Linked DNA regions of Homo sapiens: regions 1, 2, 4, 5, 6 and 7 are each linked to region 3. The links come from fine-mapping of genetic effects on gene expression. A gene starts in region 3. Each other region holds a variant in brackets. All regions are shown on one strand. Distances are from middle to middle. Region 1 overlaps FAM219A (family with sequence similarity 219 member A). Region 2 overlaps UBAP1 (ubiquitin associated protein 1). Region 3 holds the start of NUDT2 (nudix hydrolase 2). Region 4 overlaps UBAP1 (ubiquitin associated protein 1). Region 5 overlaps FAM219A (family with sequence similarity 219 member A). Region 6 has its middle 16 kb from the start of MYORG. Region 7 has its middle 76 kb from the start of PTENP1-AS.

Evidence for each region. PIP is the estimated chance that this variant, and not a neighbour inherited with it, causes the effect.
Region 1: its variant is fine-mapped to the expression of NUDT2 in whole blood (TOPMed, PIP above 0.99).
Region 2: its variant is fine-mapped to the expression of NUDT2 in whole blood (INTERVAL, PIP above 0.99).
Region 4: its variant is fine-mapped to the expression of NUDT2 in sigmoid colon (GTEx, PIP 0.94).
Region 5: its variant is fine-mapped to the expression of NUDT2 in anterior cingulate cortex (GTEx, PIP 0.96).
Region 6: its variant is fine-mapped to the expression of NUDT2 in sun-exposed skin (GTEx, PIP above 0.99). The same link has a PIP of 0.9 or more in gastroesophageal junction and left ventricle.
Region 7: its variant is fine-mapped to the expression of NUDT2 in hypothalamus (GTEx, PIP 0.98).

Annotation. Positions count from the first base shown.
Region 1 is chr9:34,422,149-34,426,247 of GRCh38, reverse strand. The region is part of intron 1 of FAM219A (family with sequence similarity 219 member A); the gene reads left to right. It overlaps LOC124902145 (a long non-coding RNA gene), which reads right to left. Exons shown (of 3, transcript XR_007061465.1): 2 at 3,511-3,610; 3 at 1,403-1,662. Among named protein-coding and RNA genes, the nearest start is that of SPMIP6, 26 kb to the right of the region's middle. The variant G/C (reference allele first, on the strand shown) is at 2,153.
Region 2 is chr9:34,203,225-34,207,224 of GRCh38, reverse strand. The region is part of intron 1 of UBAP1 (ubiquitin associated protein 1); the gene reads right to left. It also overlaps the pseudogene RNA5SP282. Among named protein-coding and RNA genes, the nearest start is that of UBAP1, 26 kb to the right of the region's middle. The variant C/T (reference allele first, on the strand shown) is at 1,664.
Region 3 is chr9:34,327,972-34,332,070 of GRCh38, reverse strand. NUDT2 (nudix hydrolase 2) reads right to left here and starts at 2,502. Exons shown (of 5, transcript NM_001161.5): 1 at 2,472-2,502. KIF24 (kinesin family member 24) reads left to right here and starts at 2,803. Exons shown (of 13, transcript NM_194313.4): 1 at 2,803-2,965. RefSeq lists enhancers at 2,557-2,746, 2,282-2,789, 2,877-2,976, 3,077-3,136.
Region 4 is chr9:34,213,094-34,217,093 of GRCh38, reverse strand. The region is part of intron 1 of UBAP1 (ubiquitin associated protein 1); the gene reads right to left. Among named protein-coding and RNA genes, the nearest start is that of UBAP1, 36 kb to the right of the region's middle. The variant T/G (reference allele first, on the strand shown) is at 1,612.
Region 5 is chr9:34,407,037-34,411,135 of GRCh38, reverse strand. The region is part of intron 1 of FAM219A (family with sequence similarity 219 member A); the gene reads left to right. Among named protein-coding and RNA genes, the nearest start is that of SPMIP6, 11 kb to the right of the region's middle. The variant C/T (reference allele first, on the strand shown) is at 1,716.
Region 6 is chr9:34,358,434-34,362,508 of GRCh38, reverse strand. No RefSeq gene overlaps it. Among named protein-coding and RNA genes, the nearest start is that of MYORG, 16 kb to the left of the region's middle. The variant C/T (reference allele first, on the strand shown) is at 2,020.
Region 7 is chr9:33,599,366-33,603,464 of GRCh38, reverse strand. It overlaps the pseudogene CYP4F26P. Among named protein-coding and RNA genes, the nearest start is that of PTENP1-AS, 76 kb to the left of the region's middle. RefSeq lists an enhancer at 2,511-3,451. The variant T/C (reference allele first, on the strand shown) is at 2,480.

The sequences.
Region 1 (4,099 bases), 94 kb before region 3:
GGGATGTTTTCATTGGAGTGTAAAATAGAAGGGAGTGGTGGAAAGAGTGAAAGTCATTATATAAAAAATTCAGGATCCTACTGCCTGTGAAATTAGGTGTCCATATAAAAGCCAAAATACTCCTTGAATGGCTATTCTGTGCTTCTGTGAAGCCCAGATGTGAAGGCCTTATAACTAACCCTCTGACAGCCACAAGGTTGCAGAGTAGGTGAAGACAAACTATTGCTCCCCTGATAGGAACAAAGGAATTTTGGAGTTTCTAATTCTAACCAAATTTAATTGTACAGAACAAGCATTCCCTTCACAACAAAAATATTTCAGCCTATTGGGTTACTTAAAATGCACCAAATAGCATAAAACATTCATTCAACTCTAACAGCATTCACAGACCTACTTTTGTAAATAGCCAAGCACAGGCTGTTCTTTCCCAGAATATGATTTTTTTTTTAAATAATGCAGTAGGTCCGCAAGGTCAGAGTTTTGGGAAAAGTCAGTCTAACCTCATTGAGGCTGCCAGTCCTCTGCCCTCGTGTGAGCCTGGCTTTCCTGCACCTCAGTGCACTGCCCACTCACTCATAGGTGTCAGTGTTTGCATGCAGGAGACAGAAGAACAAGGATCTCCCCTTAACACTAACTGCACATTTTTCAACTTCTCCAAGCACAGTGGAGGCATGCAGGTTACTGACTACATTACTGGCTCTGAAGACTAATAATTAAGTCAAGTGATTATTTTTATTTATTCATTTGTTTATTTTATTTATTTATTTAAGACAGAGTTTTGTTCTTGTTGCCCAGGCTGGAGTGCAGTGGCACGATCTCGGCTCACTGCAACCTCCGCCTCCCAGGTTCATGAGATTCTCCTGCCTCAGCCTCCCGAGTAGCTGGGATTACAGGCACCCACCACCATGTCCAGCTAATTTTTGTATTTTTGGTAGAGACGGGGTTGCACCATGTTGGCCAGGCTGGTCTCAAACTCCTGACCTCAGGTGATCTGCCTGCCTTGGCCCCCCAAAGTGCTGGATTACAGGTATGAGCCACTGTGGGCCTCATTTGTTTATTTTTACAGAAAACTATTATTGAAGGGTTTAAATGTGAGAAAGTTTTGACTAGGCATAAGGAATAATAATAATAAAAGTGAGAAAGGGCTGGGCGCGGTGGCTCATGCCTGTAATTCCAGCACTTTGGGAGGCCGAGGGGGTAGATCGCTTGAGCTCAGGAGTCTGAGACAAGCCTGGGCAACATGGCAAAACCCCATCTCTACCAAAACTACAAAAAATTAGCTGGGTGTGGTGGTACACACCTGTAGTCCTAGTTCCTCGGGAGGCTAAGGTGGCAGGTTGCTTGAGCTGAGGTGGAGATTGCAGTGACCTGAGGTCGTGCCATTGCACTCCAGCCTGAGTGACAGAGTGAGACCCTATTTCAAAAAACAAAAAGGTGAGAAAGCATGATTACCACATAACAGAGTATAGGTTCCATGGTTGAGCCTCCCTCTGGATGTTCACTGTTGGTGGAACAAGTGTTGTGGGTTCTGGGAAAATCGCAACGCAGGCTGCTCCTCTCTGTGTTCTGGATTCTCAGGCCACTCCTGGTAGGTCCGTGTTGGCTTTGGCCCCCTGCCTCAAGGACTAGAAGTCAAGGGTCTTTGCTGCTTTTTGCCATAGCCTGGGGACGATAGGCCAAAACTAAGTCAGGGGACTCTGGTGCAGCCAGAATTTGGGGCGACTACCCACCTAACTGCTTACTATTGCCTCTAGTTTGGCCAAGCCCTGGTCAGCCTCCCTTGCCTTCAGCCCACCCCTTGCCCACACTTCCTAAAAGATAGCAAATGTGCCATGATCTCTGGACCGTGACTGGACTTTTCTACTAGAGAATGTCTCTCGGTGAGGACTTGCAAGCCTCACAAGAATCAGACCCATAATTTCTTAGAACAAAATAAGTTTTTGCTGAAATATCAGCAAGCCTGAGAACAGCATCTTGAGTCCTCCCTCATGTCTTCAAACAAGTGGCCATTCTATGCTGGTTCTTTCTCCCGGCCTCAACTATTTTCCAGTCTCTCTTGTCATACAAGAGCCCCTCTAGGACTCCGGTTCTGGTTCCTCTGTCTTACATTATTCTTCTCAAAACTCTGCCTTTCCTAGACATCCATGACTCT[G/C]ATCTCTTCTTGGTTCCCTACCCCTCTGACCGTAGCTGTCAGTCTTCTGCTTACTTTTTCAATATTGGTGTTCCTTAATTTTTTTTCTCTAAGCCCTTCTTATTTATAAACATACACATATTTACACACAAAACAAAACCACAAGCCTTACTCTTATTTCTGTTTCTCCATCTTATTTGGTGGCATCACAATTCACGCAGTCACCTGAGTCAGGAGGAAACCTGGGAGTCATCCTAGCTCAAGTCTTTTCCCTCAAACCCAGATCCAGTCAGCCTTAGTGCCCCAGCGGTTTGACCTCAACATGTTTTTCTTCTCCACCTCCTTTTTTCCAACCCCACTGACACTGACTTTTTCAAGCTTTGTCACCTACTGCAATGACCTTTATCTAGCCTCCCTGCCTCCAGTTTAATCATTCCTGCCTATTCCTTGGACCTGCTCCCAGAGCAGTCAGTCTATCTAAATCTGACAATGGGCTGAAAATCCTTCAGTGGCTCCCCATTATTTCCAGGTGAAGTCCAAAACCCTGAACATATCTTACAAAGCCCTTCATGATTTTAAGTCTTCCTGTCATTCTAGACTCATCACCTGCCACTTCGTCCCCTAACATTAACATTCTAGTAAAATTGACCTGTTCTTTTTGCCTGCTCTATAGTCATGTGCATCTTTCCCACCAGTCCTTTCTCTTCTTTTTTCTTTTTGTTTGCCACTCCTTTCCTCATCTGGTTCACTAATACTTCCTATTCTTGCTTCCTCCATCAGTTTTCTTTGGAGAAGTCCTCCCTAATTCCCCAGAGTGGGATAGTTGCCTCTGTCCTGTACACATACAAACCTCTGTCATAGCACTCAGCATATGATTAAAATTATCTGCTTATTCACTTGCTTCACTCACTGGCTTATGAGCTCTTCATGGGCAGGGGCCTTATTATTGTTATTATTATTTAGAAGAAGGGGTCTCACTCTGTCGCTCTGTGCAATCATGGCTCACTACAGCCTCAACCTCCCAGGCTCAAGTGATCCTCCCACCTCAGCCTTCTGAGTAGCTAGGACTACAGACACGTGCCACCATGCCGGGCTAATTTTCTTTAATTTTTCTGTAGAAATGGAGTCCTACTATGTTGCCCAGGCTGGTCTCAAACTCCTGGGCTCAAGCAATCCTTCCACTTCGGCCTTCCAAAGTGCTGGGATTACAGGTGTGAGCCACCGCGCCCAGCCCATATTATTTTTATATGTCCAGAACCCAGCACAGTGCCTAGAATATAGATGCCCTTAAAATGTAGGACCAGAACTGAATTTGGTGGCTAAGGCCCCTTTCATCTCCTTTTCTTGCACTGCCCTCTTCTTTTGTCTCCTGGGCTCACCATTCTCAGTTTCCAACGCATTTTCTTTCTTGTTGCTTCCTGCCAGTCTCTCTCTCCATCTTGAGCTATCGACTGCTTCAGTGGCTCCAATATTTCCTTCCTGTGGAGAACTCAATTGAGCAGGAAGCTTGTGATCAGAAAGCATCCATGCTATTTTCTAAAGAGGGGCTACAAGTTTGTGTTGAGCTCCAGAGACATGATTGAACTAGGTACCAGCCTTCCAAGTGACTGCTTTGCAAGACAACAGTCCCACAGAGGTGTAAGTTCTGGTACGTTGTTAATCTCATGACTTTATCTAAGTCTCTGAGAAGGGGCTGGGGTAAGAGAGATGAGGAAATTAGATTCAAATTGCCTACCAGGTGTGACTTTGGACATATTACTTTATGCAACCTAGTTCTTCAATTTTAAAATGAAAATGATATTTGCCTTACTTGGTTTTGGGGAGGATTCAATGAAATAATATAGATAAAGCACTTAGCACCATGGCCGTACCTCTGGCAGGTATTTAAGCAACATTAACTAAATGACTGGATGAGTTTTGGAAGAACTACACCTGGGCTAAATTGTTCCGAACAACTCCCTGCCTGGA
Region 2 (4,000 bases), 120 kb after region 3:
AAAATACAAAAATTAGCTGTGGCGGGAGCCCGTAATCCTAACCCACTCCAGAGGCTGAGGCAGGAGAATCACTTAAACCTGGGAGGCAGAGGTTGCAGTGAGCTGAGCTCACACCATTGCACTCCAGCCTGGGCGACAAGAGCAAAATTCCATCTCAAAAAAAAAAAAAAAAAAAAGAAATAACAATTAAGCAAACGCAGAAAAAAAAGAAAAAATCTCCGAAGAAAATGGAGACTAGCCTATCAGATATTAAAATATTAGAAGATACAATACTGAAAGCTGTGTCGTACTGGTACAAATACAGATTAGTGGAACAAAGTAGAAATCCCTAAAAATACCCAAAATATAAACATTTGGTATATAATAAAGCTGCTTTTTAAAATCAAGTCATGGGACAACTGGGTAGTCACCTAGAAAAAAGCAGAATCCGATGCTTGCTTCACACTGCATACCAAGATAAATTCCAGATGGATCAAAGGTATAGTAACATTATGCAACTGACCAAATGTAGAAATACTATTTTCACTCTACACATACAGCTAGCGAGCCAAAATAACCTAAGTTTCTAAGACTTCAAATTTAAGAAAATACCTGGCTTATGAAAAACTCGGAAAATGAAGGGTTTTGGTTTGTTTTTTTTTTAAGTCAAGATGCTGTAATACATAAGTTTTGTCACTAACTGATTTTAGTCTTACTTTTTTCTTTTCTTTTTTTTGAGACAGGGTCTCACTCTGTCACCCATGCTGGAATGCAGTGGCACAATCTTGACTCACTGCAGCCTCAACCTCCCGAGCTCAAGTGATCCTCCCACCTCAGCCTCCTGAGTAGCTGGGACCACAGGCACCCAACACCATGCTCGGCTAATTTTTTGTAGAGATGGGATTTTGCCGTTTGGCTCAGGCTTAGTCTTATTTTTCAAATGAGGTTTTACCAAAGTTATTAATTGTAAGGTATCCTTAAGGCTTATAAGCAAAGCAATTAGTGTCTACAACCAAACCACCCTGAACGCTCCTGATCTTGTCTGATCTCAGAAGCAGGGTTGAGCCTGGTTAGTACTTGGAAGGGAGAAACACAACTAGTGACTGAATACAAAGCTCATTTCAAATAGTTTAATAAAAACAGATTACAGTTGAAAAGCAACTCCCTAAAAATTACAAAGTGACAAATAAGTACATAAACTAGTACTGTAAACGCAAATTATTGACCCAAACTGTTTTTTGTTTGTTTGTTTTTTGAGACGGAGTCTCGCTCTGTCACCAGGCTGGAGTGCAGTGGCACGATCTTGGCTCACTGAAACCTCCACCTCCGGGGTTCATGCCATTCTCCTGTCTCAGCCTCCTGAGTAGCTGGGACTACAGGTGCCCGCCACCACACCTGGCTAATTTTTGTATTTTTAGTAGAGACGGGGTTTCACCATGTTGGCCAGGCTGGTCTCAATCTCTTGACCTCGTGATCCTCCCGCCTCAGCCTCCCAAAGTGCTGAGATTACAGACATGAGCCACCACGTCCTGCCAACCCAATCTGATTTCTTAAGATCTGCAGCTAATTCCAAAATGGGTCAATAAAATCCAGACAAAGATTTCCCTTAGCTCTGGTCTCCTCTTAATCCTCCAAGCATCTAGTACAGTGTCTAATCTTTAGCAGGAGTGGCTTTTCACTTACT[C/T]TCTCCCTTCAAACTTTCTGAAAATTTAATAGCTAATTGTACAACTAATAATTATACCTAACATGTAATTTCAGAATACAACTAGACAAAACAATATCTTTAAAATGAAAAAGCTAAAACAATAATCTCTTGTAGTTACCAATAAAAAGTCTGAAATTATAAGTCTTGTGAGACTACCATAATGGAAGAACAGGAAAGTAATGACTAGTTAAAAATCAGAATGGGAGTCATGACTTCAAAGCATTAGCCAGGGCTGGGTGTGACTGCTCAGGCCTGTAATCCCAGCACTTTGGGAGACTGGAAGATCACTTGAGCCCAGGAGTTCAAGACTAGCCTGAGCAACATAGTGACAACCTGTCTCTACAAAAAATACAAAAACTGGCCAGGTGTGGTGGCACACACCTGTAGTCCCAGCTACTCAGGAGGTTGAGGCAGGGGACCACCTGAGCCTGGGGAGGTCGAAGCTGCAGTGAACAGTGATGGCGCCACTGCACTCCAGCCTGCACTCTCACTCTGGGTAACAGAGTGAGAACTTGTCTCAAAAAAAATAAAAATTAAAGCATTAGCCAATCAGAAATTTCAAGTCAGCATCTTAACCAATTCATTACAATTTATTTAAAGTATTTTCTTCAGAGAGTTCAGTGCAGTGTCCTCAAGAGGAAATCTGACCACGAACCTATCAATTTAATTCTTGCAACTGAATAAAGACTGGTTGGCAAAAAAATAATGTCAACAAGTTATTGAACCAAAAATATAATTTCCTTCCCAACTCCAAAAATCATATCACAATTCATACCAGAAGGCAAGAAAGACAAGAGCACCTGAGGCAATTAAAAGACTTGTAGAATGGGTAAAAACCTCTGAAATTTAAAAAAAAAGAACTTTTAGGGCTTCTTCCATAAAACAAGACTACTACTGGAGTAAATGATCTCTGGAATTCTTTCCAGAATTAAAGGACTAGAGATAGATTATTTTCTAACTATGAATTTCACTGGTTTTTCTAGTCTTATACATATTAAAAAGATAGCACAAGACTTCATCTTAATTCTGAGGGCACATAAAAACAAACGGGTGTTTTCTTCAAAAAAAAAAATGGGTGTGGACTGTGTATACTTACTTGACTCAGAAAGACAAGTATACTTGACTCAGCAAGTATATACAATCCACACCCTTTTTTTGTTTTTTATAAGAAAATCCTTACTATTTGATACTATTTTCCTCTACAAGTAACTAATACAATACTAACTGGTCAGTTTTTTGTTGTTGTTGTCTTGAGACAGAGTCTTGCTCTGTCGTCTGCACTCTGGAGTGCAGCAGCAAGATTCTTGTGCCTTAGCCTCCCGAGTAGCTGGGATTACAGGCGTGGGCCATCACACCCAGCTAATTTTTGTATTTTTAGTAGAGACAGGATTTCACCACGTTGCCTAGGCTGGTCTCAAACTCCTGACCTCAACTGATCCACCCACTGTGGCCTCCTAAAGCTCTGGGATTGCAGGCATGAACCACCACGCCCAGTCTCTTAACTGGTTAATTTTAAAACAAAAAAAAGTTATCATACTAGAAGCTATTAATTTGACCTGAAATAAGTAATTGCAAATATAATTTTTTGTTCTTCCTGGAGTCTTCAAACTCAGTGGATTGTATCATTCTGTTTCCATCATGTGAAACCTGAATGATTTTTCCCACAGAAATAATACAGCCTTGTTCACAAAACTTGAAAACTCAAATCCCCAGGGGAACACTGTAGGCCTAAAGGAAAAACAATATAAGGATGGAACAACTTCACACGGTGTCAAAGATTTATGGGGAGAGAAAAGGGGTTCTTAAGTAATTTCACATGCTTATGAAATATGTGTATGCTAAAATAAATGTCAGAACAGATGTCTTTAAAGTTCTATTAAATATTTAAGAAACAGATTATTCCTATTTTATTTAATCTATTCCAACACATAAAATGGAAACAAATATATATTTGTAGCTTATCAATTTATTCAGGATTTGTTTATTGTCTGTCTTCCCCACTTGCCTTTATGCACTACGAGGACAAATACCACTTCTGTCTCATTCACCATTACACCAAGCATAGTGCCCGGCCACAGTAGTGCTCAGTAACTCCTGCTGAATGAATGTTGCTGAATTCCAAGTTCTCGTATGAGATCAGCATAACACTGATACCAAAAACTGACAGAGAAAAGAGAAAAAAGAACCAGAAATGAAAGCATATTTAATTTTTGTTGATCCTTGTTTTTAGAGACAGGGTCTTGCTCTGAACAGCCCAGGTTGGAGTGAAGTGGCATGAACATTGCTCACTGCAGCCTCAAACTCCTGAGCCCAAAA
Region 3 (4,099 bases):
TGGAGGCAGAGAGATTAACCAGTTACAAGTCTATTGCAACAGACCAGTTAACAAATGATTCCAGTTAGATCAAGGCAGAGGCTGTGAGAAAGGAAAGGAAGGGATGAATCTGAGAGATATTTCAAAGTAAAATGGACAATAGTGATATTTCATTGTCTAAGGGACAGAGAGATGTTTCATAAGCCAAGGGAAAGAGAAAGGCTTTGGTTTGAGTGCCTGGGTGGAGGAGGGGGTGCAAGTGAAGCATTTGTTTGGGACAAGTTGAATTTGAAGTGCTATAGTCTATCCATAAGATAAATGAACAGATGGGTCTAAAGTTCAGTGATCATCTCATCCTATCTCTTCATTTCCCAAGGTGGGAATTTACTTTTTTAAAATTATTTTTATTAAAACAATTTTTTTCTCCTCCCTTCTCTACCAAGACCACGGTGAAAATTTTCTATTAGAGCAAGATATTGCTCCTACCATAGGTACCTCTGCAGCTCACATTCCCTCCAATTTAGGTAAGTCAAGCTGTCCAACCTGCCCCTGCATCTGTCTGGTATTCCAAGCATTTTCATCCTCCTTTAGTCAGAAACACAGAAAAGCATGGCTGTCTATGCAGTCAGAAAGGCCTAGCTATTGAAGTTAATAGAGCAAGATACTTAGAGCAAGATACTTAACTTCCTCATTTGTAAAATGAAGTTAACACCTACTTTGCATGGTTGTTGTGGAGTTTATAAATGACATATATAGAGGGTCTGACATTATCAGAGGTACTAAATATATGAGTTACTGTTACCCGTGTGTCATAAAAGATCATCAAAAAGCTTCTCTGTTTTAAAGAAATGACTTTTCATCTTGTCTGTTAAACTGCTCAACACTGTTCACCACAGTATATATATTCCTTATAAGGTCCCACAGCATAAATTCCTTTTAATATAGAAACTAGAAAAATAATTTATCTTTTGAAGAATGGATTTGTTTCCTTATTAGTAAGAATTACCTTTTTTCCCTTAACTGACTAATTTTGGGCAAAATTGGGTACTCAGTTACAAAAAGTACACCAACGCACTGACTAGTGTATTTGCCTGTTCTTATTATAAGAATAATAGCTACCTTTTTTTTTTTGAGACGGAGTCTCCCTCTGTCGCCCAGGCTGGAGTGCAGTGGTGCGATCTCTGCTCTCTGCAAACTCCGCCTCCCGGGTTCGTGCCATTCTCCTGCCTCAGCCTCCCGAGTAGCTGGGACCACAGGCGCCCGCCACCACGCCCGGCTAATTTTTTGTGTTTTTAGTAGAGACGGGGTTTCACCGTGTCAGCCAGGATGGTCTCGATCTCCTGACCTCGTGATCCGCCCGCCTCGGCCTCCCAAAGGGCTAGGATTACAGGCGTGAGCCACCGCGCCCGGCCGCTACCATTTTTTAAGAAGTTACTACTCGCCAGGCGTTGTGTCAAGTGCTTTACCTTCATTATTTCACTTAATCTTCACAACAACCCGCTGAGGCATTACTGCCATTTTTCAGAAGAGTAGAAAGGGAACTATAGCTCAGAGATGTCTGGGTAAGTGACTCAAATGTAGGTCTGCCTGACTCCTAACATCAATGATCTTAACCTTAACTCTATAATAGCGTTTTACATTTGACAATTTGATTGCATTCAGTTTTTTTTTGTTTTGTTTTGTTTTTGAGACGGAGTCTCGCTCTGTCGCCCAGGCTGGAGTGCAGTGGCGCGACCTCCGCTCACTGCAAGCTCCGCCTCCTGGGTTCATGCCATTCTCCTGCCTCAGCCTCCCGAGTAGCAGGGACTATACGTGCCCGCCACGACGCCTGGCTAACTTTTGTATTTTGTTTAGTAGAGACGGGGTTTCACCGTGTTAGCCAGGATGGTCTCGATCTCCTGACCTCGTGATCCGCCCGCCTTGGCCTCCCAAAATGCTGGGATTACAGGCGTGAGCCACCGCACCCGGCCTGCATTGTTTACGCTGTCCCTTTTTTGTTTGTTTGTTTAAGGCGGTGGGGCTCTTGTTCGACTTTCTTTACTTCTGCTATAACTGCCACGATATTATCCATTCAATAACTGAAGCAATTAGAAAACATAAAATCTCTTTTGGAAAGCAGGCGGGGTTTAATGGGTAGCAACAAGTGAAACTGAGGCCCAGGGAGGGGAAGGTTCGGCGCCTGGGCCTCTGGGCCCTAAACCTGGACCTCTCCCGCCTCTGGGATTTGGACGACCCACCCTATCCCCACTCCGACGGGGACAAGCAAGGCTCAGAGTCAGGGAACCTCCCTTCTCCCGGTGCAGACAGGAAAACTGAGGTCCTGAGAGCGGATGGGACCTGGCCTGCCCACACCTCACTGCCAACTTAGAGGAGGGCGCATCCCTCTCGGGCCCTGCAGCGACCAGAGGTTTGCCAGAGGCAGATTCCCATCGCTCCAAGGCTCATTTCCTCCACTGAGAACTAAAATCAAGTGGGCCCTTAAGGGTACTCACCCGAAGCAGAAGGAGGTAGGAGGCGGACCTTGGACGGAAACTGAAGTACACCGGCCAATCAGAAGAGCCTGGTTACGCTTGGGCCCATCAATAGAATTCGGCAGAAGGATCTTCGACCCGCCTCAAAGGTGCGCGTCTCACACTGAAACGTCGCGAGATCTTCCCTCAAGCGGAACGATTGGCTGAAGGTCGGAAATTGAGAGTTACGCCCACGGTTTCTTCAGACCTCTGATTGGTCTTCCAGAGGAGAAGTCAACGAACGTCAACCGATTCCTTGGATGCCCATTGGTGGGCGGTGCGGGACTGGCGACGCGCGGGCCACAGCGCGGGCGTTCGAACTGGCGCTTGGCGGCGTTGCCATGGAGATGCGGCCTGGCCGCCGCCGGTGGCTCCCGGGTTGACGGGACTGTTAGGTTGCGGGCTTTGGGGCTCACTCCCGACGGCATTGTCTTCTCCTCTTCTCAGACAGGGCAGACCGAGGAGTTTGGACCGAGGTGAGAAAGGGCGGGGAGAATAGAGGAGGGGTAGGTCTGGTCCGGAACCGTGGCGCCTGCCCGCGGACACGGGTGCGCGTGACGTCGGCTGAGCGCGGGAGGAAACTGGCAGTTGTGAGGGAACCGAGAGTTGGCCCCTCTTGGCTCTTCCTAAAGTTCACCTACTTTCCTATCTTTCATCCCCATATCTCTGCCTTTTCTTCAGCAATTATCTTGAACGCCACTTCTCTCACTTTGGGAGACTAAACTCTTGAGTCCCAAAGCCTTCTTGCTTTTGAACCGATAAGCCTGACCGGCACCTCTTTTAGGGCATTTCTATTCGCCCTTGGGTTGTTTACTTCCGGGAAGCCCGTTCGCTTCCCTTTTCCCATAAAATTTTGAAGCCTTTGAGGTAAGGCAAGCATCGTTCACAATGTCTTGCACATAGTAGATTTTCAGGAAATATTTGTTGAGTTGAATTTAATTTACAAGAAATAGATTGGATTCCTCTTCATGCCCTGCCTTGTTGTCTCTCTGCTTCAGAGACGATTTTTTATTTCGAGGCTAGGGGGAGGCCACCCTAATCTTCAATGCAAAAGGACCTAAAAGTCCACACACAGTCCACAGCTGGCCTTTCTACTCTTTGTGAAAGGCTAAACTTTTTTGGATTGGTTGCTGCAACTCTTCCTGCATCTGTGGCTTTTAGCCTTGGTCTCCCAATAATTTTATTAGACTCCTTTTAGTCTTTGCTTAAAATAAACCATTCTGTTGCTGTATGCCAAGATAATTTATCTCCCTTTAGCTTCTTAGTGACCGGCAGCTATTGTCACATTTTAAGTGTGCTTTGGAAAATGTTTTAAAGCATCTTCTTTGTACTTGTATTCTACAAGTAGAGAGGCTTTGTAGTCTCTCTATTGAAGTGCATATAACAGCTGCTCAGGTGAACTCCATCTATTCATCAGGTGTCTATGATAGAATTGCGTTCCTAAGACTGTTTCGTTGTTAACTCATGGATTATATATTCACAGCCTGATTGTTGGTGTGATTGCTCCTTATATCAAATTCATAGCTCACTGGTGGCCTTAATAAAAGGAGTGAAAAAGTTCAGTACAGCAGCTATGTTCTTGTTACCCTTTTATAAAAGTTTGAAACACT
Region 4 (4,000 bases), 110 kb after region 3:
ACACCCTTCCCAAAAGAGTAGAGAGTATAATAGTAATTACCAGAGGCCGGAGAGGTGGGGAGGGTAGTAAAGGGAAGGGCAGGGAGTGGGATGGGGAGAAGTTGATGAATGATTAAAGTTACCATCACATAGGAAGAATAAGTTCTGGTATTCTATTGTACAGTAAGGTGACTACAGTTAACAATAATATATTCTATATTTCAAAATTAACTAGAGCTCAGGAGTTTGAGACCACCCTGGGTAATATGGCCAAACCCCATCTCTACTAAACATACAAACATTAGCCGAGCATGGTGGTACGCACCTGTAGTCCCAGCTACTTGGGAGGCTGAGGTGGGAGGATGGCTTGAGCCCAGGAGGCAAAGGTTGCCGTGAGCCATGATTAAGCCACTGCACTCCAGCTTGGGCAAGAGAGCCAGTCTCAAAAAAAAAAAAAAAAAAAAAAAAAAAATTAGCATGGTGTGGTGGTGCATGCCTGTAGTCCCAGCTAATCAGGTTCACTTGAGTCCAGGTGGTAAAAGGCTGCAGTGAGCTATGATCGCACCACTGCACTGCAGCCTGGGCAACAGAGTGAGACCCCAGCTCTAAAAAAAATTTAAAATAAAAAAAAGAAGACATAAAAGTTCACAAATATTGTGTGATGCCATTCATATGAGGTGTCCAGAAAGGGAAAATCCAAAGAGACTGAAAGCAGACTGGCGGTTGCCTGGGTCTGGGAAAGAGAAACTGTGTAGTTGGTAAGGGTCTCCTTTGGAGTGAAGGAAAGGTTTCAGAACCAGATATGGTGATTACACAACACTATGAGAGTACTAAATGCCACTAAATTGATCATTTTAACATGGTTAATTTCATGCTATGTGAATTTCACCTCAGTAAGTTTTTTTTTAAATTAAATTACAAAAAAAAAAATGGCAGAAAAAAATTGGCAGCAGAGAGGTGCTCCAGAGGAGAGGGCCAGAAAGACGCGTGTCAATAACTTCCAAGTTTGAAAATCAGAGAGGCAATGAGGCAGTGAACAACTAGATAGAAGACCACAAGGAATAGTAAATGAAAAATAAAATACAGTTCTCTTTATTAGTAAATAATGTAAAATTTTTTAAATCATGCCTCAATAGAGCTGATAAAATATTTTTTTCCCATATTATATATTATTTTCCACAGTCCTTAAGAATATGAGAAATCTATATTTGGGCACATAAAGATTTTTCTAAGGTCCACTATGCAGCAAAACTTCAGTCTCTCAAAGCTCAAAGGCATTTTAATACCTATTTAGGGTCAGTTTTCTTCCCCCAGAACATCTTTTATATATATGTACATACATGTATGTGTGTGTGTGTGTGTACATATATATATGTACACACGTTTCACCAATAACTTCCTATACTTTTTTAAACCCTTTTTTTATTATTTATTTTTCCATAAGTTATTGGGGTACAGGTGGTATTCAGTTACATAAGTTCCTTAGTGGTGATTTGTGAGATTTCGGTGCACCCATCACCCGAGCAGTATACGCTGCACCCTATTTGTGGTCTTTTATCCCTCACCCCCCTCCAACCCTTCCCCCCAGGTCACCAAAGTCCACTGTATCATTCTTATGCCTTTGCGTCCTCA[T/G]AGCTTAGCTTTCACCTATCAGTGAGAACATTAGATGTTTGGTTTTCCATTCCTGAGTTACTTTACTTAGAACAGTCTCCAATCTCATCCAAGTCACTGCAAATGCTAATTCATTCCTTTTTACAGCTGAGCAGTATTCCATCATATATATATATATATGACACATATATACATACTTATATACATATATATACACACACACACACTATCATATATACATATATACACACAGCAGTTTATCCATTCGTTGATAGGCATTTGGGTTGCTTCCATGATTTTACACTTGTGAATTGTGCTGCTATAAACATACATGTGCAAGCATCTTTTTCAAATGACTTCTTTTCCTCTGGGTAGATATCCAGTAGTGGGACTGCTGGATCAAATGGTAGTTCTACTCTTAGTTCTTTAAGGAATCTCCACACTGTTTTCCAGAGTGGCTGTACTAGTTTACATTCCCACAGCAGTGTAAATGTGTTGCCTGATCACTGCATCCACGCCAACATCTACTGTTTTTTTATTTTTTTATTATGGCCATTCTTGCAGGAGTAAGGTGGTATCACATTGTGGTTTTGATGTGCACTTCCCTGATCATTAGTGATGTTGGGCATTTTTCATGTTTGTTGGCCATCTGTATATCCTCTTTTGAGAACTGTCTATTCATGTCCTTAGCCCACTTTTTGATGGGATTGTTTTTTTCTTACTGAGTTGGTTGTAGATTCTGGATATCAGTCCTTTGTCAGATGTATACATTATGAAGATTTTCTCCCACTCTGTGGGTTGTCTGTTTACTCTGCTGACTATTCCTTTTACTGTGCAAAAGCTCTTTAGCTTAATTGGGTCCCAGCTATTTATCTTTGTTTTTATTGCATTTGCTTTTGGGTTCTTGGTCATGAAATCCTCGCCTAAGCCAATGTCTAGAAGGGTTTTTCCAATGATACCTTCTAGAATTTTTTATAGCTTCAGGTCGTTAAGTCCTTAATCTATCTTGTATAGGATCCAGTTTCATTGTCCTACATATGGCCAGCCAATTATCCCAGTGCTATTGTTAAAAAGGGTATCCTTTCCCCACTTTATGTTTTTGTTTGCTTTGTCGAAGATCAATTGGCTGTAAGTATTTGGGTTTATTTCTGGGTTCTCTATTCTGTTCCATTGGTCTGTGTGCCTATTTTTATACCAGTACCGTGCTGTTTTGGTGACTATGGCCTTATAGTATAGTTTGAAATCAGGTAGTGTGATGCCTCCAGATTTGTTCTCTTTGCTTAGTCTTGCTTTGGCTATGCAGGTTCTTTTTTTGTTCCATATGAATTTTAGAAATGTTGTTTCTAATTCTGTGAAGAATGATGGTGGTATTTTGATGGGGATTACATTGAATTTGTAGATTGCTTTTGGCAGTATGGTCATTTTCACAATATTGATTCTACCCATCCATGAGCATGGGATGTGCTTCCATTTGTTTGTGCCATCTATGATTTCTTTCAGCAGTGTTTTGTAGTTTTCCTTGTAGAGGTCTTTTGACTCCTTAGTTAGGTATATTCCTAAGTATTTTTTTTTTTTGCAGCTGTTGTAAAAGGGGTTGAGTTTTTTATTTGATTCTCTGCTTGGTCACTGTTGGTGTATAGAAGAGCTTCTGATTTGTGTACATTAATCTTGTATCCAGAAACTTTGCTGAATTCTTTTATCAGTTCTAGGAGCTTTCTGGAGGAGGCTTTAGGGTTTTCAAGGTAAACGATCATATTGTCAGCAAACAGTGACAGTTTGACTTCCTCTTTACCAGTTTGGATGCCCTTTCTTTCTTTCCCTTGTCTGAATGTTCTGGCTAGGACTTCCAGTACTATGTTGAAGAGGAGTGGTGAGAACAGGCATCCTTGTCTTGTTCTAGTTCTCACAGGTAATGCTTTCCACTTTTCCCCATTCAGTATTAGGTTGGCTGTAGGTGTGTCATAGATGGTTGGGTTTTTTTGTTTTTGTTTTTGAGACAGAGTCTCGCTCTGTCGCCCATGCTGGAGTGCAATGGTGCGATCTCGGCTCACTGCAACTTCCACCTCCTGGGTTCAAGCGATTCTCCTGTCTCAGTCTCCTGAGTAGCTGGGATTGCAAGCGCCTGCCACCATGCCGAGCTAATTTTTGTATTTTTAGATGAGACGGGGTTTCACCATGTTGGCCAGGCTGGTCTCAAACTCCTGACCTCAGGTAATCCACCTGCCTCGGCCTCCCAAAGTGCTGGGATTACAGGTGTGATGTGAGCCACTGCACCTGGCCCAGAGATGGCTTTCATTACATTGAGGTATGTCCCTCGTATGCTGATTTTGCTGAGAGTTCTAATCATAAAGGGATGCTGGATTTTGTCAAATGCTTTTTCTGCATCTATTGAGATGATCATGTGACTTTT
Region 5 (4,099 bases), 79 kb before region 3:
ACACCTTTTCTACAGATACCTTCATATATAAGCCAGGCTCCAACCTATGTGGTGTCAGGGCTACAGCTACAGGCCAGCCACTCCCAGGGCACACTGACCATGATAGTATAGGCCTCACTGAACCTATACTAATGATATCTTTACAGTTAACATGGATATAGTGCTAAGGGTATACTATGCTAAGGACTATTCTAACTGCTTTAATACATATTAACTCCTTTCATCCTCACAAGAACCCTTGAACTAGGTATTAGTGTTAGTCCCATTTATAGATGAGGAAGCTGAAACCCAGATTGTACAGCTACTAACTGGAGGAGCTGGAATTTGAACCTAGGCACTCTGGCTCCAGAGTCTGTGCTTTTAACCATTACAATCTTTCTTTCAGTCTGTGTGGCAAGGAGGATGGGATTGTGTAGATTGTCTTCCTTTAGTCAGAGCATCCCCTTGGCACTGAGAGTGAGGTCAGCCCATCCAAGCCATATGTCTGTTGCCCAGTGGAGGAGGAGTATAATTTGAATGTTGGGGAGGCAATCACATGTCTACTGGGTACTTATGAGAATCAGATAAGCTCGTGGATCTGAAGACATACATTAGGAACTACAAGACCCTCTACAAGTTTTATTTTTTGCCACCTAGAGTCCTACCAGAGTAGCCCATAAAAGTCTGCGGGTCATTCAGGAAAGCAGACTCTTCCATCTACTTATCCAGATCCTCCTTCTTAAGACTCCAGGCATGAGCCTTGAAGGTTCCACACTTTGGTTTTTTTCATTTGTTTCCCTTTTTTACCACCCAATTTTATCCTGCTTATTTGGGATCTCTTGGGTCCCAGCCTACCATTGTATTGACTGCACTACCCACAGCTCCAACAAGTGAGGCCAGCCAGCTAAAGACAGTTCATGAGTTGGTACAGCCCTGGGGCAGGGGGACAAGGGAAGAGGTTAATATGCAGACTGATGCTTGGGCCTGCAGGAATGGAGCAGCCTCCCAGAGGGCCTGTCTTTAGCTCCAAGCCCAAATCATGTTCTCTTCCCTATGTCCCTCCCTGCATGCTTTGAAAGGTTATTGACTCCATCACTGACTTTGGGTAAGACACTTCCCCTCTCGGCCCAGGTTTCCTCATTTTTAAAAAGAATGGGTGATGATATTTGTTGAAGCTGTTGATAGGTACCTATGATCTCACTATACTATTTTCTCTACTTGTTATAATTTCCACAATAAAACATTTTTAAACATTTAAAATCAAAAGATTTCAACCTTTTTTAAAAAATAGAACCTTTTCTCCAACCAAAAAGTTGCAACAGGCTGATATATAAATGAAATAAAGGTGAATCTACTCTTATTAAAGGGAAACCAGACCCACATCCTATAGCTTCCCCTTCACAGTCACTCAGGGAACACAGTTTAATGAAAATCAGTGGACCAAACTATTATAATTCTAAGGATTCTTCTGATGCTTTTGCCTTCCTCTAGCTATATTGGCTTTGCACTAGCCATTAGCCTATATATCCTGTCCCAGAAACAGTGAGGCTGGGCTATTAATCATCTCTGTAGTCTTCAGAGAATTTATTTGAAGGGTTGCAGAAACATGGGCTGCTGTTAGAGATGCATTTCAATGTCTGTCTCTGCTGAGTGTTTATTAATAATCTTGTTAATCTCCACTCTAGTTCCCGGATCTAGCTAACGCCTTCAGATGTCCTTGGGGGGCACTTTAAATT[C/T]TCCCTGATTTCTTGGAGCCAGGCACTTCCTTCTGCCTGGAGTCTTTTCTGATACTTACATTCATGAATATTTTACATTTAATCTCCCTGATTACATTGCCATGCAATGGTTGTGGTGCATTGGCTGCATTTCTAAGGGAAGACATAGAGGAAGCTCATAGTAAAGGCTTATGTTTGCAGGCACAGTGCCAGAGATCTTTGTGCTTGCCACTAAGGTGGCCTTCTGTCATGGATAGTGATGGAGGAGATGCTGAATGGTGGGCTTTGCATGGGACCCCTCAGCCTAGGGCTCTGCCCCCTGGTCAGGCCCTCCTGAATTGTGGTCCAAAGGAGCTGGCAGTTTCATCCAGGATCAAATACCATCAGGAACTGCCCAGTAGGCCTCAAGGACCACATGTGAGTCCCTGTGACCAGAGTTGCTCAACAGCTTTCTAGCCCTGTCCTTCCTGTGAAATCTACCTCCCATGTTACCATTTATACCCAGTACCTCCAGACTGAGAGAAGAAACTTTGATGAACTCATCTGCACTGAGGAGTAAAAAGTTAGCTCCAAATGTCTAACGGATTGTGTTTTTAAAAATCAGCCCCAGGGAAAGGATGGTGAGGCCTAACACTCTCATGTGATAGATGGGTTAGAAGGTTAAGGAGGAGAAGCAGGATTGAAACGCCACAGATTTAGAAGTCATCAGTGTAAAAATGCCAATCAGAACTATAGGAGACATCAGGGCTCCCCAAGGAGAGAGAGGAGGGCCAAGGGCAGGACCCTACAGAGGAGGCAAAGGGTTGTGGGAGGACAGAGAAATGATAGTCAAAGAGGCAAGAGATGAGCCAAGGGAGGAAGCCTTTTCCAAATGGATGTGGTATATGTGACATGTGACGAATGCTACCAAAAAAGTGAAGGAATGTGACTTGGGACTTAGAAATGTGCCAGTGCTGCCCTGGTAGGGTCCTATCAGCATGTTTATGGGATTTGCCCTTTAAAAAGCCTTCCCTCTGGCTGCTTTGCAGTGAGCAGTCTCTGGGGCTCACAGGAAATCCAGAGCCCAGCTGTCCCATCTCCACCTCCCTTGCAGGTAGCAGCTGCTGAGAGGCTGTTTTGGCTGCAGAGAGGCATGTCAGGGCCACTAGAGGTTTGCTTTTCCAAGGCTGTGCAGGACAGGTGCTGTCTATTAGTCTCTCAAGGAGGTTGCTGAGCCAGGGAGGATGAAGGACTTGAAGCATGGGAAGTTGCCCAAGATGCAGGCACTGCGGCACCCAGCCTCTCTGAGCAAAGCCTCCTGCCCTTCTTCTACTCAGTCAAGGCTAAGGGCTAGGGATCAAAGCAGGAGAGGGAGGCACAGGTTTTGCCCTCAGGAACTTGCAAACCACTGTGGCAACACAACCCACCCAGAGCCTTGTGCTCTGGATGGCCTGAAGGAACACAGACAAGGCCAGGATTTCCCTCTCAAACCTGCTAGACTTTTCCCTTTCCCGTTAGTGACAAGCATGTTTTCATGCCCACTGCCTCATTTTAAAGGGAACAGAAGCCACCATAATGGTTATATATCCTTCCCTTGCCAGGTCACCAGCAACCACTCAGATCCCTGGGCCTGACACTGTGGCAGCATTCTACATGCCCATCTGTCTACTCCCTGCATCCGCAAAGGCAGAACAGGCAGCAGCCTTGGATCCCCTCTGCACTCCTCGCACCTTAGGCTTAGCAATCTACAGGCCCTGGTTAAAATGCAAAGACAAGGGAAGAGGTTAATATGCAGACTGATGCTTGGGCCTGCAAGAATGGAGCAGCCTCCCAGAGGGCCTGTCTTTAACTCCAAGCCCAAATCATGTTCTCTTCCCTATGTCCCTCCCTGCATGCTTTGAAAGGTTATTGACTCCATCACTGACTTTGCGTAAGACACTTCCCCTCTCGGCCCAGGTTTCCTCATTTTTAAAAAGAATGGGTGATAAGTTGATATTTGTTGAAGCTGTTGATAGGTACCTATGATCTCACTATACTGTTTTCTCTACTTGTTATAATTTCCATAATAAAACATTTTTAAACATTTAAAATCAAAAGATTTTAACCTTTTTTAAAAAATAGAACCTTTTCTCCAACCAAAATGTTGCAACAGGCTGATATATAAATGAAATAAAGGTGAATCTACTCTTATTAAAGGGAAGCCAGACCCCCATCCTATAGCTAGGATGGCAGCACCCCTGTCAATATTTGGTCCTCAGAGTCTCAGGGAGAATGTGGATGACTTCAGCCACTTGCACGGCCCTGGATCTTGCAGCAGAGGAGGGTGTTTGGGAGGGGATGGCAAGGCTAGATAAGGACTCTTAGCAAGGTATGGTGGCTCATGCCTGTAATCCTAGCACTTTGGGAGGCTGAGGCAGGCGGATCAT
Region 6 (4,075 bases), 30 kb before region 3:
CTGGCTAATATAGTAAGACTCCATCTCTTTAAAACAAATAAATAGTTCTTTTCGTATAAGTAAATTTCTAGAAAAAATCAAAAGCACAAAATAAATTATTTTTTTTTTTTTTTTTCTGAGACAGTCTTGTTCTGTCACCCAGGCTGGAATGCAGTGGCGTGATCTCAGCTCACTGCAACCTCTGCCTCCCGGGCTCAAATGATTCTCATGCTTCAGCCTCCCGAGTAGCTGGGACTACAGGTGCGCACCAACACACTTAGCTAATTTTTTGTATTTTAGCAGAGACAGGGTTTCACTATGTTGCCCAGGGTGATCTCGAACTCCTGAGCTTAGGCAATCCACCTGCCTCAGCCTCCCAAAGTTATAGGATTACAGGCATGAGCCACTGCGCCTGGCCACAAAATAAATTACATTCTATTTAAAAAGTGATATACAATGATAAGCAAGATTTTAAATAGTGTAACACATATAATTTGACCCACTTTTAATGGACTTCAATGATCAATTATGATTTAGTCTAACTCTACTTTTAGCATAAAAGTTGGGTGAAACAAAAAGTCCAAAGATACATACAGCAAAAACTGTTAGAATTGAAGGCAGACTAGACATTTCAATAACAACAGCCAGGCGCAGTGGCTCACACCTGTAATCCTAGCACTTTGGGAGGCTGAAGTGGGAGGATTGCTTGAGCCCAGGACTTCAAGATCAGCCTAGGCAATATGGTGAGACCCCATCGCTATTATAAAAAAGAAAAGGGGCTGGGTGCGGTGGCGCGGTGGCTCATGCTTGTAATCCCAGCACTTTGGGAGCCCAAGGTGGGCAGATCACTAAGTCAGGAGTTCGAGACCAGCCTGACCAATATGGTGAAACCCCATCTCTACTAAAAATACAAAAATCAGCTGGGCGTGGTGGTGGGTGCCTGTAATCCCAGCTACTCAGGAGGCTGAGGCAGGAGAATCGCTTGAACCCGGGAGGCGGAGGTTGCAGTTAGCCAAGATCGCTCCATTGTACTCCAGCCTGGGCAACAGAGCAAGACTTCATCTCAAAAACAAAAACAAAAACAAACAAACAAAAAAATATATACATAAACATATATATATACATACACATACATACATATACACATATATATACATATATATAAATAACAATAATATTGGACAATCACCGTTTTTACTGAGCAATGACTGATGAAGTGTGTGTTGCTCTTTTGTTTTGTGTTTTAATTTTTTTCTACCAAAATAACACGTTGATGGGTTGTTTTTTCCCTTTACTTGTTTATTAAATACTTGATGAAGTTGAGAGGCACATTACCAGAATATACCGTATTGGCCCTCCTGCCTCTTTTCTTCCCTAGTTAATTTTTGGTTTGGTTAGAAGAGAGGAGGGTCCAAAACCATTGTCATTATCATGAGTTTGGCTTATAAATACCATGGTGAAGAGACACCTCAAGTATGTCTGTTTTTAAAATTCATCTTATGGGTTAACAAGCCAGCCTGGTGGGATGTTTGCCATCATCACTTAACCAGTAATGGTTCTGAAGGTTTTGTGTATCCACATGATCTTAGACCTTCTTTTAATGATTGTATTAACTTACAAGCTCAGGTACTGTTTTCCTTAAGACTGTCTTAGAGCACACTGACTGAATGTTAATGTGTGTAGCAAAGTGTTTACTTGCTTTAAATAACCAGCTCTGTAATCATTCTTTATGTTTCTAGCAGTCTCTGTAGTTGTCTTTCTTCAGAGAAATATTTTTCCTGGGGTTATCTTGTTTTTAGGGTGGTAAGATTTCATTCTTTTTTCCTTTTCTCCTGAGATCAATGCAGGTGGGTTGGTAAGGGCTGTTGTTTTTCAGTAGCATGTTAGGTATACTTGGGTGGATGGGACGGTTGTTAGTATTTTTTTAGAATCTTGCTTAATACTGTCCATTAGACCTTGAGCTATATTGGCAAAATGCTTTATTTATTTGTTTATTTACTTGTTATTATTTATTTGTTATTATTTATCTTGTTATGTTGC[C/T]GAGGCTGGAGTGCAGTGGTGTGATCATGGCTCACTGTAGCCTTGACCTCCTGGGCTCAAGAGATCCTCCCACCTCAACCTCCCAAGTAGCTAGTGCTTTATTTATTTATTTATTTATTTATTTTTATTTTTTAAGACAGAGACTCACTCTGTAGCCAAGCTGGAGTGCAGTGACGTGATCTCAGCTCACTGCAACCTCCACTTCCTGGGTTCAAGATATTCTCCTGCCTCAGCCTCCCAAGTAGCTGGGAGTACAGGCATGCGCTACCTTGCCCAGCTAATTTTTTTATACTTTTAGTAGTAAAAAAAGACCATGTTGGCCAGGATGGTCTCAATCTCCTGACCTTGTGATCTGCCCGCCTTGGCCTCCCAAAGTGCTGGGATTACAGGCCTGAGCCACCGCGCCCAGCCTAGTGCTTCAATTTTTAACTGCAGAAGATATGATTCAGTTGAGTTTATTTTTTTTTTTTAAGAAAAAAAGTAAATGCAGAATTGGGGGGATTAACATGGGCATGTTGCCTATGTTAGAATGATTAAGTTAAACCTCTTAATTTTTATTTGTCCAAGGCAGACATGATTCAAGGACGACGTACTACCAAAACAACTCCTCCGGCTGCAGAAACCATGCTGTAAGTTCCTCTGGGGTGCTGACTGCCTTTTGCCTCTTTTAACTGGATATTGCCATGGTGGTGTGAATTCTGTCAATTCACTGGATGGGTGGGGAAATCAACATTTCCCCCAAAGCTTTAGGCAAAAGTGAGTTTTTGTTTGTTTTTCTTTTGGCTTTCACCTTTAAATCTTAAATGCTATGATTGCAGGCTGCAGGTATGACAGGCAATAAGCAGGTGAAGAGCCAATGGAAAAGTGTTCAAAAACACCTGCGTTAGCTAACAGGCTTTTGAATGTATTGCTGTGGTCCACAGAGTAGGCTGGAGAAGGCAGCGGAGATGCTATATCAACTACTGCAGCCCTAAAACAAGGTTGGTGTCTCTGTGGACTTTAAAATTGTTCCTATGCAGCTTATTTTATTTTTGTTTAATCAAATAAATAAGAGGGTTTTTCCATGGCAAAAAAAAAAAAAAACAATAATAGTTGGAGATTTCCGTACCCCACTTTCAATAATACATAGAACAACTAGACAGAAGATCAACAAGGAAATAGAATATTTGAACAATACAAACCAGCCAGACCTAATACATCTATAGTATACTCCATGAGCAACAACAGAATATATATTCTTCTCAAGAGCACATGGAACATTCTCCAAGGTAGATAATCTATTATTCCATAAAACAAGTCTCAATGCATTTAAAAGGACTGAAATCATACAAAGTATATTCCATAGTCACAATGGAATAAAATTAGAAATTAATAACAGAAGGAAGTTGGAGAAATTAACAAATGTGTGGAATTTAAACAACAGACTCCTGAATAACCAGTGATCAGAGAATAAATCACAAGAGAAATTTAAAAATACTTTGAGATAGGCCAGGTGCGGTGGCTCATGCCTGTAATCCCAGCACTTTGGGAGGCTGACGCGGGTGGATCACCTGAGGTCAGGAGTTCAAGACCAACCTAGCCAAGATGGTGAAACCCTGTCTCTACTAAAAATACAAAAATTAGCCAGGCATGGTGGTGGGCACCTGTAATTCCAGCTACTCGGGAGGCTGAGGCAGAGAATTGTTTGAACCCGGGGAGCAGAGGTTGCAGTGAGCTGTGATCATGCCACTACACTCTAGCCTGGGCGACAGAGTGAGACTCTATCTCAAAAAAAAAAAAAAAAAAGAAAAAATACTTCAAGATAAGTGAAAATGAAAATATACTAAAACTTATGTAAGGCAGTGAAAGCAGTATTTAGAGGGAGATTTATAGCTGTAAACACCTATCACAAAAAAGAAGAAACACATTATGGAAAACAGTATGAAGATTTCTTAAAAAGTTAAAAATAGAACTACCAGATGATCCAGCAATCCCACTTCTGGGTATATAGCCAAAGGAAATGAAATCAGTATGTTGAAGAGATATCTACAATCCTATGTTCACTGAAGCATTATTC
Region 7 (4,099 bases), 730 kb after region 3:
TGCAGTGCTGCTCCAGGATGATGGTGTCTAAAGTTGTGCACCAGGTCATAGGCCCTGCAGAAACATCTCCCCTCAGGAGTGAGGTAGTACAGGAAGTCCATGCACAGGCAGATCTGCTGGTGCCATTACACTATGAGGGCATGGAGCTCCAAGATGGTGGCAACATAGTCACTAGAATTCCTACAGGGTAAGGCTGGGGAGAGGAAGTAACTGCATAACACATATGATACCCTGGAAGCACTTCCCAGCCAGTCTCAGGACCACATTACATCCAGATACAGGTGCCCTCTGAGCACACTTCTCTGCCTCCCACTCTGAGCTGCCTCCTGGCCCCACATGGGCAGCCTGGCCCAGGGCTTGGAGCCCAGCAGGTGTTCAGTCCATGGTGTTGACTGCTCCCTGGGCCAGGAGAGCCCTTGGTGACTCTGTGACTCCTCCTGTGGAACCTCTGACTCTGCCTTGGGACCTCCCAATTCCCATGGAAAGCCCCCATGGCTCTGGATTGCCCCACGTTGCCTGGGATCATCCAGCCCCGTAGGCCTAACTTGATGCCTTAGCCCTCCCAGAACATGACATGTTTCTCAGAATGTGGCTGATGTCCAGGGCCATCTGTGGATGTTTGCTGGGGGCCTCTTGCTGTTCTCCTTTATGGTCTGTAGGGCAGGGCAAGGCCAAAAGAAGAAACCAATCCAACCTCAGAATGGACAAAATGCTCACTGCCACAAACGGCAACCACCTACAGTCAGCAGTGCTTCTGGATGGAAAAGAGGTTTCATTCTGCAAAACGCTCCTTGTTGGCTTCTTTCTGAAGCCAGGGAAGGGTACCAAGCCCAGCTTACCTGCAGTGCCTACATTAGCATCTGTGCCTAGGATGTGCGATGGGCCCCTGCTCCCACTGCAGGGTTGACGTTCCCTCCAGCTGGAGACCTGGGCTCCTGACACCACCTGGCCTGTTTGTCCTGCTCTGGATGAGGGTGGAAAGGCTGTATCTGGCATTTTCCTAGGTCCTTAGTTTCCATCTTCTAGACATCCAGCAGGAGTGACCATGCCCAGCCCCACACCTGAAATGGGACTCCCTTGTAGAGCCGCTGAGACATCTACAGACAGAAGAGTGCTCTGGTGAGACAGGCCACAGGGGTCCCCAGGGAGGGTTGGGGGCCAGCAGATTCTGAAGGTTTCCAGTCTTGGGCTCTGTGGTTCCTCAAAGAGGTTAGGTTTACCTAAAACCAGGCCTCTCCTCCAACGATTGAAAGAGTGGATGAGTGCTCTGCATCAGGAACTCTGATCTGGACCTATTTTTTCATGTAGGTCACCAAGAGACAACCCCTAACCTCTGAGCTAGGGATGGTCCAAGCTCTGGCATGAGATTTTCTTCTAGCAACGTGATGCTTACAGGGACAGGTAGAAAAGCTGGTGATCAGGCCTGCTGTCCTCCGGGTAAGGACAGTGTGCTACCCACCCTCTGAGAGGCCAGTGGTGCCAGGCCACAACACTGGGTGCCTGTACCCCTGGCTCTGCAGACACCGGTCATGGAGGCCCTCCCCTCTTCACATCACATTCTTGCTGCTCCTATATTTCTTCTAGTCATTAAACAATTTGGGCCATTTTTCTGTGCATCCAATCTGACTTTTTTTTTATTTTTTATTGATCATTCTTGGGTGTTTCTCGCAGAGGGGGATTTGGCAGGGTCATAGGACAATAGTGGAGGGAAGGTCAGCAGATAAACAAGTGAACAAAGGTCTCTGGTTTTCCTAGGCAGAGGACCCTGCGGCCTTCCGCAGTGTTTGTGTCCCTGGGTACTTAAGAGTAGGGAGTGGTGATGACTCTTAATGAGCATGCTGCCTTCAAGCATCTGTTTAACAAAGCACATCTTGCACCGCCCTTAATCCATTTAACCCTGAGTGGACACAGCACATGTTTCAGAGAGCTCAGGGTTGGGGGTAAGGTCATAGATCAACAGGATCCCAAGGCAGAAGAATTTTTCTTAGTACAGAACAAAATGAAAAGTCTCCCATGTCTACTTCTTTCTACACAGACACAGCAACCATCCGATTTCTCAATCTTTTCCACACCTTTCCCCCTTTTCTATTCCACAAAACCGCCATTGTCATCATGGCCCGTTCTCAATGAGCTGTTGGGTACACCTCCCAGACGGGGTGGTGGCCGGGCAGAGGGGCTCCTCACTTCCCAGTAGGGGCGGCCGGGCAGAGGCGCCCCTCACCTCCCGGACGGGGCGGCTGGCCGGGCGGGGGGCTGGCCCCCCACTCCCTCCCGGATGGGGCGGCTGGCCTGCCGGGGGCTGACTCCCACCTCCCTCTCGGACGGGGTGGCTGCCGGGCGGAGGGGCTCCTCACTTCCCAGACGAGGTGGCTGCCAGGCGGTGACGCTCCTCACTTCTCAGACGGGGCGGCTGCCAGGCCGAGGGTCTCCTCACTTCTCAGACGGGGCGGCCGGGCAGAGACGCTCCTCACCTCCCGGA[T/C]GGGGTCACGGCCGGGCAGAGGCGCTCCTCACATCCCAGACGGGGCGGTGGGGCAGAGGTGCTCCCCACATCTCAGACGATGGGCGGCCGGGCAGAGACGCTCCTCACTTCCTAGATGGGATGGCGGCCGGGTAGAGGCACTCCTCACTTCCTAGATGGGATGGCGGCCGGGCAGAGATGCTCCTCACTTTCCAGACTGGGCAGCCAGGCAGAGGGGCTCCTCACATCCCAGACGATGGGCGGCCAGGCAGAGACGCTCCTCACTTCCCAGATGGGGTGGCGGCCGGGCAGAGGCTGCAATCTCAGCACTTTGGGAGGCCAAGGCAGGCGGCTGGGAGGTGGAGGTTGTAGCGAGCCGAGATCACGCCACTGCACTCCAGCCTGGGCACCATTGAGCACTGAGTGAACGAGACTCCGTCTGCAATCCCAGCACCTTGGGAGGCCGAGGCTGGTGGATCACTCGCGGTTAGGAGCTGGAGACCAGCCCGGCCAACACAGCGAAACCCCGTCTCCACCAAAAAAATAGGAAAACCAGTCAGGCGTGGCGGCGCGCGCCTGCAATCGCAGGCACTCGGCAGGCTGAGGCAGGAGAATCAGGCAGGGAGGTTGCAGTGAGCCGAGATGGCGGCAGTACAGTCCAGCTTTGGCTCGGCATCAGAGGGAGACCGTGGAAAGAGAGGGAGAGGGAGACCATGGGGAGAGGGAGAGGGAGAGGGAGAGGGAGGAGAGGGAGAGGGAGAGGGAGAGGGAGAGGGAGAGGGAGAGGGGGGGCGATCTGACATTTTTGCTCTCAGATGAAACATGATAAAGGAAGCCAAGCTGCCAGGATTCCTGGAGGGGACCTTGGGTGCTGGGTCTTGGGCTCCAGGGCCCTAATGGGACTGAACCAGAAGGAGCCAGGGAAGGGCAAACACTGGGACTGAGGCCCTAGGACCCAATGGCCATTGGTGGCCAGACCTTATGGCCCCAACATACCCTGTCCTCAGGCCACAGACATCATGGGCTTCAGTCAGGTCCCAGCCTCCCAGTAGTGTCCTGGTACTAGCAGGTGCTGACCCCTGAGCCACGACCATAGTTCTGGGTTTTGGGTTTTGGTAAAACCACCTCAGGGACAGAGTTCTGGGGTTGGGTTTGGCAGGAACCATGGTGCCTCCCAGGGATGGTGTGTCACTCCTACTTGCCACAAAATGTGCACAAAGGCTGTCCCACTGTCCAGCCCATCCTGCTGGACAGGATGGAGGAAGTCAGGGAACAGGTAGGGTGGACATCTGGGGTGCAGGGAGAGGCAGGTGCATGCTGGGAGGTCAGACCCTGTGAGGGCTGTGGGGGCATCAGTTGGAGTGGGCTCCAGGTGCAACCTCAATGCACTAGGCAGGTCTCAGGCCAGGCTCCCTGGACCCCGGCTGGGTGATGTGGTCACTCCCTGGGGGACTGCTGTCAGGCCCTGGCCACCCACCCTGGGGAGCACTGTCCCATCTCAGGACTGGACTTTCTGAGTCCTGAGACAGGACAATACTGTCTAGGCCTGACAGACTGGGAGGACCTGTTAAGTCCTCCATCCCTAGACCAGCCTCCCACACAGCAAGGACAGTCTCTTAGCTCTACCTTCAGGGCACTGAC